3 separate regions of the Homo sapiens genome follow, and regions 1 and 2 are each linked to region 3. The links come from fine-mapping of genetic effects on gene expression. A gene starts in region 3. Each other region holds a variant in brackets. All regions are shown on one strand. Distances are from middle to middle. Region 1 has its middle 36 kb from the start of TBC1D15. Region 2 overlaps LGR5 (leucine rich repeat containing G protein-coupled receptor 5). Region 3 holds the start of TMEM19 (transmembrane protein 19).

The links. PIP is the estimated chance that this variant, and not a neighbour inherited with it, causes the effect. A credible set is the group of variants that fine-mapping cannot tell apart.
Region 1: its variant is the best candidate, but not a certain one, in a credible set for the expression of TMEM19 in nasal epithelium (TOPMed, PIP 0.65).
Region 2: its variant is the best candidate, but not a certain one, in a credible set for the expression of TMEM19 in atrial appendage (GTEx, PIP 0.67).

Annotation. Positions count from the first base shown.
Region 1 is chr12:71,801,245-71,805,608 of GRCh38, reverse strand. No RefSeq gene overlaps it. Among named protein-coding and RNA genes, the nearest start is that of TBC1D15, 36 kb to the left of the region's middle. The variant A/G (reference allele first, on the strand shown) is at 2,111.
Region 2 is chr12:71,561,788-71,565,787 of GRCh38, reverse strand. LGR5 (leucine rich repeat containing G protein-coupled receptor 5) reads right to left here. Exons shown (of 18, transcript NM_003667.4): 8 at 3,936-4,000. The region is part of intron 2 of LOC105369833 (a long non-coding RNA gene); the gene reads left to right. Among named protein-coding and RNA genes, the nearest start is that of ZFC3H1, 100 kb to the left of the region's middle. The variant A/C (reference allele first, on the strand shown) is at 2,332.
Region 3 is chr12:71,684,161-71,688,524 of GRCh38, reverse strand. It overlaps TMEM19 (transmembrane protein 19), which reads right to left and starts at 2,443. Exons shown (of 6, transcript NM_018279.4): 1 at 1,715-2,443. The coding sequence starts at 1,844. It overlaps LOC124902965 (a long non-coding RNA gene), which reads left to right and starts at 2,461. Exons shown (of 2, transcript XR_007063367.1): 1 at 2,461-2,603. RefSeq lists an enhancer at 478-547 and silencers at 1,896-2,111, 2,102-2,171.

The DNA.
Region 1 (4,364 bases), 120 kb before region 3:
CGTCTTTAATTTAAACCTATAATTTCAAACTTACTTTAGCATAGAATTATTTCAAAGAAATCTCAATAAATAATAGAATTTAAAAGGATAAACAGTTTTTTTAGGCAACTTAAATCACCATTGCTTGCAAAATCCTAATATCACCTCTTTGGAGATCTAAAAAGTAGAGTAGAATTTAAAAACTACTTTCTCAGGCCTTTGAGTATCATCCAGAAGCATTTACAAAAGTGCTGGTACCAAGTGAAGTAACTCAGGAGTGAAAAGCCAAATACCGTGTGTTCTCATTTATAAGTGGGAGCTAAACTATGAGGATGCAAACACATGCAGAGTGATATGATGGACTTTGGGGACTTGAGGTGGGAGGTTGGAAGAAGGGTGAGGGATAAAAGACTACATTTTGAGTACAGTGTACACTGCTCAGGTGACAGGTGCACTAAAATCTCAGAATTCACCACTAAAGAACCTATCCCTGCACCCAAAAACCACCTGTACCCCAAACACTATTGAAATAAAAAAATACTGGTACCATAATGACTCCCCATGCACTCATCACTGTCACATTCACCTGCAGCCAGACACTGAGCCAAAAGGACTAATAAAGAGATAAGAACAGCAGTTCCAGTCTTCAAAGGAGTTCCTGCTCTAATTTAGAAGACAAGAAAACAGATCATCACAATTCAGTATTTATTCAGCAAATATTTTGTGACAGTCTAGGATGTGCCAGACATTATTCTAGATGCTAAGGATACAGTAGTGAACAACGTGGACAAAATCACTGTCCTGAAACATGAGAGTTCCCTGACCCCCTTCGCAGGATGTGTGACAGGGATGTGGCTTGTCGTGCTCAAACCCCTTGCAAGAAGGGGGAGCATGTAGATGGGCAGGTGCAGGAGCCAATGAGAGTGCTTTTGGCTCCGGCCCCATGGTAGCATCTAGGGGTGAGTGCCTGCAATTCCTGAAGCCCCAGTGGGCGTGTTATGGTGCTCTTTCAGCTGTGCTCTCCACAGACAGCTTAAGTGTTAACCAGCTCAGTGCCCTCTTGATACCTGGGTTCTTGTCCAGCGTCCAGGAAGAATCAGGTCATACAGACAAATTGAAGGATGGTAAATGTAGGGGATTTTATTGCCAGATGGAGGTAGCACTCAGCAGGATAATTGGGGAGCTGGAAAGGGAATGGAGTGGGAAGATGACCTTCCCCTAGAGTTTGGCCATCCCGTCACCGATCTCTCCAACCGTCCCCAGCCGAACTCCTCTCAATGTTCACACACTCCTCATCTCTCCTTCTTTGCTGCACTGCCCTTCTGACTCCTCTGTTCTTCTGCTCATGGAGCCCAGGGTTTAGGGTTTATTTGGGTACAGGAGAGGGGGGTGTGGCAGACCAAAAGGCAACATTTGGGCCTGAAAACAGAAATGCCTGTTCCCATTTAGGGCCATGGGTTTCCAGACTTGAGGGTGGGGTCTTTGCCAAGGAACCGCCCCCTTGTACCCAGTATCTCCCTACCTCCTGTACATATCACTTCCTGATTTTATCTTCCAACCAGGGAAAACAGACGTGAAAGAATGACTAAAAAGTACACTATGTTAGAGGGAATAGGAAGTGTTGAAGAAATTATAATTTTAAGAAGGGTGAACAGGAAGTTATGGGGTTCAACGGGATGACACAAGAGTTATCAAGAAGAACGTTGTAATTGACCTAGGTAAAAGCAATTTAGTGGAGTTATGGGATCAAGTCAAAAATTGTGGTAGGTTGAGAAGAGAACAGGAGAACATGGAAACAACAGTGTGAACTTTCATAGGAAGGAAGAGAGGTTCACAAAGATGAATTTTGTGGAAGGAACTTGATCATGTTTATAATTCTAGAAAAAGGGCCAGTAAAGAGACAGTTTGTTCAATATACTGTGGGGAAAATGGGAGAATCTATAAAAAGACCACCAGGTAGAAAGGGGTGGGATACAGGTAGTAGAGAGTGTTAACCCTGGAGGGAAAGAATGATATAAGCAAAATCTTCTGTTAATAGCAATAATTGCTAATATTTATTTAAAATTTACCATGTGTCAGAGTATTCTAAGCACTTTGTATGTAATAACTCATTTATTATGAGAAACCTTAT[A/G]AGGTACATTATTATCCCCATTTTATAAGTGAAGAAACTGAGACACAGAAAGTTAATTGTCCACATCACACAGAAAAATATAAGTAATATTTCAAACCCAGGCATCTGGTCTTTAAGTCCATGGTCTCAATCCCTACTGTATATCGATAAGAGAGAAAGGTGAGGAAGAGGGAGTTCAAAGAGTTTAAAGAATACCTTGAATTTTACATAGATGATGGTAAGAATAGACAAAGGGTTAGGGATTTTCAGAGAATGTCAGACTGAATATATAGCCAGAATTTTGGAACAAAAAGGATCATAAAGGTTGCTCATTTTCCTGAGGCCCAGAAATGCCCACTAGACTAAAAGCTTTATTAGGACAGGGATCATGTCCATTTGGTTTACCACTGTGAACACATGCAGCACCTAGCACTCGACCTGATGAATAACAGGCACTTATTAAATATCTATTGGCCAAATTAAGAAAGTTGAAAGTAAATATGTGCCTGAGGTATCGGGTTGAACCATATGAAATTGCCATTTAGGTTAGTCTTGATTCTCCTGCAAAGCACCTGCTCATCTTTCCTTTTTATTTCCCTTACCAAGCCCAGTGACCCAGCCAAATTAATTTGCTAGTTAAAATTTGCTGTTTCCCATTTCTATGACTTTGCATATATCCTCCTCTTAAAATGTTACTTCTCTTAAAATGTTACCATTGATCCATGTTTCTCTTCTTTCAAAGTCCGTTGCAAATACCAAGTATTCTTAAATGATTAAATTTATCTTTGTTAATTTATTACTCTGTCATTTCCTTTATCCCATTTTTCGTTTTCTTTGAGTAAAAATACTCAGTTTTTTAGTATATGCTGTTTACACCTAATCTTTCTTTAAGTTTTATTTTTATTTATTTATTTATTTATATTTTTATTTATTTATTTATTTTTGTGGAATAGACAATATATTGCATGGCTTCTACTTAAAAAAAAATACAAACAGGGCCAGGCACGGTGGCTCATGCCTGTAATCCCAGCACTTTGGGAGGCCAAGGTGGGCAGATCACGAGGTCAGCAGTTCGAGACCAGCCTGACCAACATGGTGAAACCCCATCTCTACTAAAAATACAAAAATTAGCCAGGCATGGTGGCAGGTGCCTGTAATCCCAGCTACTCAGGAGACTGAGGCAAGACTATCATTTGAATCTGGGAGTTCAAGTGAGTTGCAATGAACCGAGATTGCACCCTGCATTCCAGCCTGGGCGACAGAGTTAGACTCCATCCCCCCGCAAAAAAAAATACAAACAGGTATCCAGTTATTAATAGAAGTTTGCTTCCCACCCTTTCCCCTATCACACTCAATTTCTCACCACCATGGCTCAGATATGAGCCACCATGCCTGGCTTTTTTATTATTTTATAAAAATTAACAAGCTGATTCTAAAATTCATATGAAAATGCAAAGAACCTACAATAATAATAAAAAACAATTTGGAAAAGAACAAAGGTGGAGGGTTAGCACAATTTGATGTTGAGACTATAAAGCTACAGTAATCAGCACAGTGTGGTATTGGCATCAAAATAGACAAATCAGTGGAACAGAATAGTGTTCAAAATATAACCACTCAAAGACAAACAACTCATTTTTTTTAAAGGTGTAAAAGCAGGCTTGGCACAGTGGTTCACACCCATAATGCGACTACTTTGGGAGGTTGAGGCAGGTGAATCTCTTGAGCCCAGGAGTTTGAGACCAGCCTGGGCAACATAGAGAGACCTTGTCCCTATAAAAAATTAAAAAATTAGCCAGGCATGGTGGTGCATGCTTGTAGTCCCAGCTACTCCGTAGGCTGAGGAGGGAGGATCGCTTGAACCCAGGAGGTGGATGGAGGCTGCAGTGAGCCAAGATTACACCACTGCATTCCAACCTGGGCGATAGAGCAAGACTCTGTCTCAAAAAAAAAAAAAAAAAAAGTGAAAAGCAATGCAATGGAGAAAGGATAGCCTTTTCAACAACTAGTGCTGGAACAAAAAAAATGGACTGCAATTCTTACCTTGTACCATATACAAAAAGTAATTCCAAATGAATCATAAACCTAAATGTAAAACCTAAAACGATAAAACTTTTAGAATACATAGGAGAAAATCTTTGTGACCATGAGCTAAGCAGAAATTTCTTAGAAACACCACCAAAACACAATTCAGAAAGAAAAAGATTTAGCTGGACTTCAACTGAATTAAAAACTTTTGTTCTTCAAAAGACACTCGAGAACCAGTTGCTGTGGC
Region 2 (4,000 bases), 120 kb after region 3:
GTGCCATATACTTTTTAGCTGAGTCATTCTTCTAGTCCAATTAAACTCAACAAATATTCACTAATGTCTACCACGTTTAAAGTATGAGGGTAGGTATGTGAGGATTTAAAGATTGATTCATTAAAAAGCTGTCATTGGGTAACTACTTTGGACTTGGCATTATACTAGATGCTGGGGGTTTGAAGAAGAATGATAAGATGTTCCTGTGGTAAAGGAGCCTGGATTCAGTTGGGATAAAGCAAATAAATAACAGCATATCACTTTCTACTTAACAAAGCTCTTGCATATATGTATGTGTTATATATATATATATATGTATATGTATATATGTCTATATATGAGCTATATATATATATATATATATAGCTCAATTGATCCATGCAACAACTTTATGAGATTCATAGTGTAGATACTATTTTCTTCACTTTTGGAAGAGAAAATTGAGGCTCAGACACCTTGGCAAGCTCATTACCTCCTAGAGCCTCAATTTTCTAATTTGTTAAGCTGAGATAATAATGCTTAGTGGTAGGGTTTGGATAAGAATTAAAAGAGCTAATGCATGTGTAACATTTGAAATAGAACCTGGGATACAGTTGCTACCCAACAAACCTAAATCCTCTTCTGTCCTACCCACTGAGCTCTTCTTTTCTCTTGGGATTAATCAGTAAGAGAAAGAGCTAGAGCTGGAATATGGGCCTTATGATGAAAAATGGAGCTTTCCTCTTAATATCTTATCAGCTCTTAGCTATACCATGTACTTTATGCATATAATTGTGTTCACATACATGTACGTATATATATATACACACGTATATATACACACATACGTATATATACACATACGTATGTATATATACACATATATGTATATATAGTGTGTGGGTATACATATATTTATATATGTATATATACAGTGTGTGCACATATATGTGTATATATACACAGTGTGTGTGTACATATATGTGTATCTATATACAGTGTGTGTACATATATGTATATATGTATATATGCAGTGTGTACATATATGTATATATGTATATATATACAGTGTGTGTACATATATGTATATATGTATATATACAGTGTGTGTACATATATGTATATATGTATATATACAGTGTGTGTACATATATGTATATATACACAGTGCGTGTGTACAGATACGTATATATGCATATATACACGGTGCGTGTGTACAGATACGTATATATGCATATATACACGGTGCGTGTGTACAGATACGTATATATGCATATATACACGGTGCGTGTGTACAGATACGTATATATGCATATATACACGGTGCGTGTGTACAGTTACGTATATATGCATATATACACGGTGCGTGTGTACAGATACGTATATATGCATATATACACGGTGCGTGTGTACAGATACGTATATATGCATATATACACGGTGCGTGTGTACAGATACGTATATATGCATATATACACGGTGCGTGTGTACAGATACGTATATATGCATATATACACGGTGCGTGTGTACAGATACGTATATATGCATATATACACGGTGCGTGTGTACAGATACGTATATATGCATATATACACGGTGCGTGTGTACAGATACGTATATATGCATATATACACGGTGCGTGTGTACAGATACGTATATATGCATATATACACGGTGCGTGTGTACAGATACGTATATATGCATATATACACGGTGCGTGTGTACAGATACGTATATATGCATATATACACGGTGCGTGTATACAGATACGTATATATGCATATATACACGGTGCGTGTGTACAGATACGTATATATGCATATATACACAGTGCGTGTGTACAGATACGTATATATGCATATATACACGGTGTGTGTGTACATATATATGTATATATGTATATGTATACACACAGTATATATATACACACTATATACACACACACACACACACACACACTGGGCAGGTATGAATATACATGCTTGTGTGCATAAGGCAGAAGTATCATAAACACACATAAGGAGTTTTAGGGTTCTCAGGAGGGAACTCTCTCATATGTTCGGGAGAGATTATAAAAAACTTCAAGAAATGGCTTTTAAAATGGGCCCTGAAAGAATTTCAAGAAGCATAGTGAGGGAATGGGATCGTAGGAGCAAAGGAAGTAAGAAAAGAGCTTTGTTCCGTGAACATAACTTAGTCAGTCTGGTTTATGAATTAGGGTGAATGAGGAGAGCTTTGGGGAACTGGTTGACAGGGTTGGCTTAGGCCATGTGTGGCCTTAGACTGTGAATGTCAGGATGAGGAGTTTGCATTTAGTGTAAATAGACATCCTGAACGCACATTTCACAGCAG[A/C]AGTAACAAGATGGTTGCCGTGCTTCAAGGAAGATGAGTGCTGCCAACGGTGAAGGGAGGGAGGCCAGCCTCACGCAGACTGGTGAAAATCTGGATGTCATGGTTGGCAGAGAGGCTGGTGCAGTGGAGGTCAGGAGGTATGGATAGGATGGGGACTACAGAGGTGGAAATGAGGAGTGGGTAGCCAACTGGACCTGGAAAGCATTCACAGAAATGCGGGCTTTGAAGAGATGGAAACAGATGCAGGAGCAAGGAGAGGAGAGTTTATGGGAGAAAGTGGTCACCACTGTCAAATAGTGGATAGGAGGTCTAATATATATAGAGTTGGGGTTGGCGCCGCTAGTTCCTCAGGGAGTATTAGCATATCAAAAGAGTGATGAAAAACCAGTACTGTGGCTGCAGAAGGAGGAGCAAAGGCAATGTAATTTGCCAACCTCTTAATACGCAAATACGCTCTAATGAGGGCTAATGTTTATTGTCAATGTACTTTAAAACTCTTAGTTTGCCAAAATATTGCCAGAACATTTCAGAAACAATGAATAGTTTTTTTCTTCTGGTTGTCAAGGCTAATTGGGACTCCTGCTCATTTGTGACAAATACCACATGGTCCCAGAAAGCCCGTCACTCCAGTTGGCACAGGACCAACATCTGCTGAGAAGTGCCCCTAGAGTCATGTTTAACAGTTGTCCTTACTCTCCTCCTCTATATTCAGGCTTCTCATTCACAACCTCAGGTTTGATGGTGTCCCAAATCTGCCTCCGAGAGGAGCCTTTTGTCTAAGAGCCAGCCTCATACTCAGAACTGTATATCATCATTCTACTGTATTAAATATGAAACATAAAATTAGTTATACTTTGTAGTTGTAACTCTATTTTATCCTTTTGTTGGAGACAGGGCTCTGTTGCCCATGATAGACTTCGGAGGCATGATCATAGTTCACTGTAACCTCCAACTCTTGAGCTCAAGTGATCCTCCTGCATTGGCCTCCCAAAGTGTTAGAATTACAGGCATGAGCCACAGTGCCTGGCCGATTTTATTCTTTTATGGCATATAAATCCTCATACACACCTTTCTAAAATGTTATTTATCATTCTAGAATTACATCCTAGTTTGTATAAATGTGAATGTTTGGGCATAATAATGAATGGAGATAGAGGCTTAGCACAAAACAGTATAAAACCCCTACCATCAATTTAGGCTGGAGTCTATTGCTGTAAAAGACATCCATTTGTATATAATAATTTATATTTCTAGTATACTCGGGTTTAAGTTCAGAATGACTATGCAGACTTGACATTAATGCTCTAAAAATCAGTTTTATTTCTTAGAAAATAGAGGTAATCAAAAGCATTTTACAAGATTATTTTAAAGATACCTAGCACATCTGGAGATACCAATCATAATGTGATCTTTAAAAAAATCTTTTATATTATTTCAGTGTTCAGCTAGAACCTGGCAAAATGCATGTGTATATACCTTTCTGTATGAACTCTTAGATTGACTAAGACAAAACTCAGGCAAATATAGAATATTCATTGTATTTCAAAGTATAATATATGCTATATTTCAGGATGGAGAAACCGAAAAGCATTATGGTCACTTACATTGTAATAAGAGAAGGGTTGCCTACAAATGCTTTCTCAGGTATCGACCTGATATTGTTGCTATG
Region 3 (4,364 bases):
GGGCGCAGTGGCTCATGCCTGTAATCCCAGCACTTTGGGAGGCCAAGGCAGGAGGATCCTGAGGTCAGGAGTTCGAGACCCAGCCTGGCCAACATGATGAAACCCTGTCTCTACTACAAATACAAAAATTAGCCAGGCATGGTGGCAGGCACCTGTAATCCCAGCTACTTGGGAGGCTGAGGCAGGAGAAACCAGAAGGCAGAGGTTGCAGTGAGCTGAGATCGTGCCACTGTACTCCAGCCTGGGCAAAAAGAGCGAAACTCCGTCTCAGAAAAATAAAGGGGAAATGAAAGACAAAGAGGGCCCAAGCATTCAACAAAAGATGAGAAATATCCTATTTCTGGAAATGAAAACTATTACCACAGGTCTAATACACAAAAACGTACACAGATTCATTTGCATTAGGTGACTGGCCCCAGAGGGATATTTCAGTTTACAAATCCTGATTTATTCCATTTAGTTCAAGTCATAGTAAATACTGTCACTAACAAGAATCTTTTCTTACACCCCTCCCCTAAAACTCTGATGCCCCACTGTGAATCATTATGAACGAACTGCACTGAGAGCTTCTGTAGCCTGGAGAACCCTTTCCAACTATTCACATGTCTCTTTGCAAAAAGCCTACAGTCTGAAATGGCAATCCCTTACGATACAAGCATTCTCATTCTCCTTTTCATTTTTCCTTTGTTGCAAACTGACCAGTATTTTGTTTTCATAGGAGAAGGAAGTTTGTGTAAATGGAGGCTTATGCTCTAAAGCACCTTTAAAACTTTAAAGATCTGAGTCCAGAGTACCTTATATTTAAGCAATGTAGCTTTAGGCTTTAAAAGGAGTCTATTCTTTTGAAGCAACCAAATGGCAGATAAGTCCTTCAGCTCTCCAAATGTAAATAGTATACCGTTTTTAATTCTTATTATTTTTACAGAACATGTGAAACTGATAAACTACATTACTACTTTTTTTTTTTTGAGACGGATTCTCGCTCTGTGGCCCAGGCTGGAGTGCAGTGGCTCAATCTTGGTTCACTGCAACCTCCGCCTCCAGGGTTCAAGTGATTCTCCTGCCTCCATCTCCCAAGTAGCTGGGATTACAGCTTTTTTCTAGTTTTAGTAGAGCTGGGGTTTCACCGTGTTGGCCAGGCTGGTCTTGAACTCCCGACCTCAGGTTATTTGCCCGCCTCGGCCTCCCAAAGTGCTGGGATAACAGGCGTGAGCCACCGCGCCTGGCCCATTACTAATATTCTTATTCAAAATTAAAAGCATCACTGTAATTGCTTTACAAAGCTATATTCGCCTCACTTATCTTTTACCAAGACAGATGGAATAGTTACATAAAATATAAAGACATTTTGAAATAGGTGTAACTAGTCCAGAAGTGGTGGCCTGTATTGCCAGCACTTTGGGAGACACAGGTGGGAGGATCACTTGAGCCTAGGGGTTTGAGACCAGCCTAGCAACACAGAGGGACCCCTATCTTATACAAAATAAAAATTAAAAAAAAAAAGAAATAGGTATAACTCGAATTATCACAACAAGCATTTATTAAAGGCATTGTTTATACTATCATGTTAGTAAGTTAAATCAGGCTATGGAAGTTAAGTAAACACAACCATTCATAACCATTCAGAGGATATGAGTTTTGGATTTCACAATGGTATGGTTTTAATTTCCTCTGACTAGATTACAGAGAAACAACTTAGAACACTCAGACTTACCATAATAGGTGCTTGCAGTCATTGATATAATCCAGAAAGCTAACGAAATGCAAATGATCAGGCTCAGTATAACTATATTAGTTATCATCTTTATATATCTTTTGCATATATTGTCGTTAAGATCTGTCATGGAAAATAAGGATATGAGCTCCTGCGGGAAAGAATATTTAGCGTTTCGGAGAGAAAGTCATTTACGATGTGAGCAAGACACTTGTTCAGAGGCAAACATAAATCCCAACATATTCCACCGACCAAACAAGCATAAAAATCACAAAAATTCAAACTCCTTCCGGAAACTCCTACTGGCGGAGAGCTCCAATTCATATGGGCGTGGTCAACGCCTCACCGCAAAAGCAGAGCGCAACCCGGCGGACGGTGAGGGCCGGTCGCCGGCTGCCGGCCGCTTCAGCGCCTCACGCCGGAGCCCACGGGGAAAAGAGAAAGCCGAGGCAGCCAATCCGCGGTCCCGGCGCTGGCGAGTTCCACCCACCTCCCGTCGCAACCTTCTCACCCGCGGGCCGGGTAGGCCAGCGGCTGCAAAGGGGCAGCTAGGGCACCCGAACTTGGGCAAGTCTGGGAAGCACGCCCGACGCGGCTGAACGCAGTCACGTCCCGACAGCTGCGCAAGCCGCCCTAGGGTCAGGTCCAGCCGGCCAAGGCCGAGACCCCAGGAGCAAAGCCCGCGCCTCCCGGCGCCCCCGCCTCTAGCGCCTCGCCCGCTGTGGGCATGCGCCGCAGCCGCTTAGGGGGATGTCGCCTAGCTCACGTGGGCAGGCACTGCTGGCATCCTGGCCGGCTGCGTTTGCACTGCTTCTCCAAAACCACATTATAGGTACTAAACAACATTGTTTAGTACCTATAATGTGCTAGACTCCTGGCTGCTAGCGAGGTAAAGTTAAACATAGTTTCTATTACTGAGCTCTCGTAATTATTGTCATAACACCACTTAGATTGTGGAAATATCTGTCCTCACACCCCTTATATTAAAGGTGTGTGCATTTAGAAAGCAAAACGTCTTGTTAGCATTAAAAATCTGAATCGTGGCTGATTTCTTTTCTTTTCTTTTTTTTTTTTTCGAGACAGTGTCTCTCTCTGCCGCCCAGGCTGGAGTGCAGTGGCACGATCTCTGCTCACTGCAACCACCGCCTCCCAGGTTCTAAGCGATTCTCCTGCTCCAGCCTCCGGAGTAGCTGGGATTACAGGCGCCACAACCACGCCCGGCTAATTTTTATATTTTTAGTAGAGACGGGGTTTTGCCATGTTGGCCCGGCTGGTCTCGAACTCTTGACCTCAGGGGATCCACCCACCTCGGCCTCCCAAAGTGCTGGGTTTAATGGCGTGAGCTACAGCGCCCGGCCTGATTTCATGTTTTATGTGAAATTAACTTGTTTGCCTGGGTTAACAGTAATTAACTGATAATTACATAATATTTATCAATTTTTTCAGTTAATTGCTGACAGTGTAAGAAGAGGAGCCAAATCCATTTCAGACACAGTATGCAATTGTGTTTTAAGCCCCAAGAGTAGTTACTTTAAAAAAGCTCACATTATTTTAAATTTCAAAATACATGCCAAGACAGCTTGTCATTTTCTTTGGTAAGACATCTAATTAAGTAGTTAACTAAGAATCAAATCTGTGAAGTAGGACTAAATAGTAGTGGGCTTCCTGTACTAGATAATATACATATATGGTCTTTATGCTGAAATGTATTATGTGCCTACTTTATTTTTGTCTTAGTCTGTTCTGCATAGGTAAATGTTTGGATTATTTCACCAAGCTGACTGGCCAGTATCAATGTTACCAGACTACTGGGTAAAATTATTAATAATGAAAGCTAATGTTTTGTGGTTTGCACAGTCGCATTGTTTTTGTCTCTGCTTAGACAAAATTATAAACTGGTCTTTTTTTTTTTTTTCTTTTTTTTGCCTTGCTTCACCACAGTCACAGAGTGACCCTCTCTGATTAGTTGGTGTTCGATAGGAAAATCATAGCCTAGTTGTGAATGTCAAGCTATCTCCCAACACTGTGGTGTAGCTGTGTCAGGTCAGTCCCTGGATGTCAGGGATGATTTTCTCATGACTATTAGATCTGGCTAAAAAATGCATATTAAATAGTAGTGTCAGTGAACTGACCCTTTAGATGAATATTTTCCCTTCTATTTTTTTCAGTGACCAATTATAGATGTTTTTCTCCATAAAAGTTATTCTAGCTTAAGACCAAAATAATTTAGAGGAGTTAATATAATTAAAATACAGTAGTTCTTATATGCAATAGGCAGTTTCAGTTACCAAGGGTTAAACATGATCTTGAGGCAGGAGAATAGGGTCTCCTATTGAGGCAGGGAACCTAAGGCCGATTCATGCTGACTTCCTAGAGCTAAATCAAAAGGAAAACCCCAACTTCCCATACCTAAGTAACAAAAGGACCCAAAGCTACGCCCTTTGCAAACCCCTCTTTTTTTCTGCGTGGCAGATAGAAAATTGAAAGTATCTCTGCTTGGTAGCTTTCTGCAACCAATCAGACGTTTGCGTAGGAGTGTAACTTTGTAACTTTGCTTCAGCCTCTAATTGGTTGTTTTTCACAACCAATCAGACTGATTGTGGGCTAGTACTTCATTTACATTTACATAAGGTGTACACCAAGTAACCAA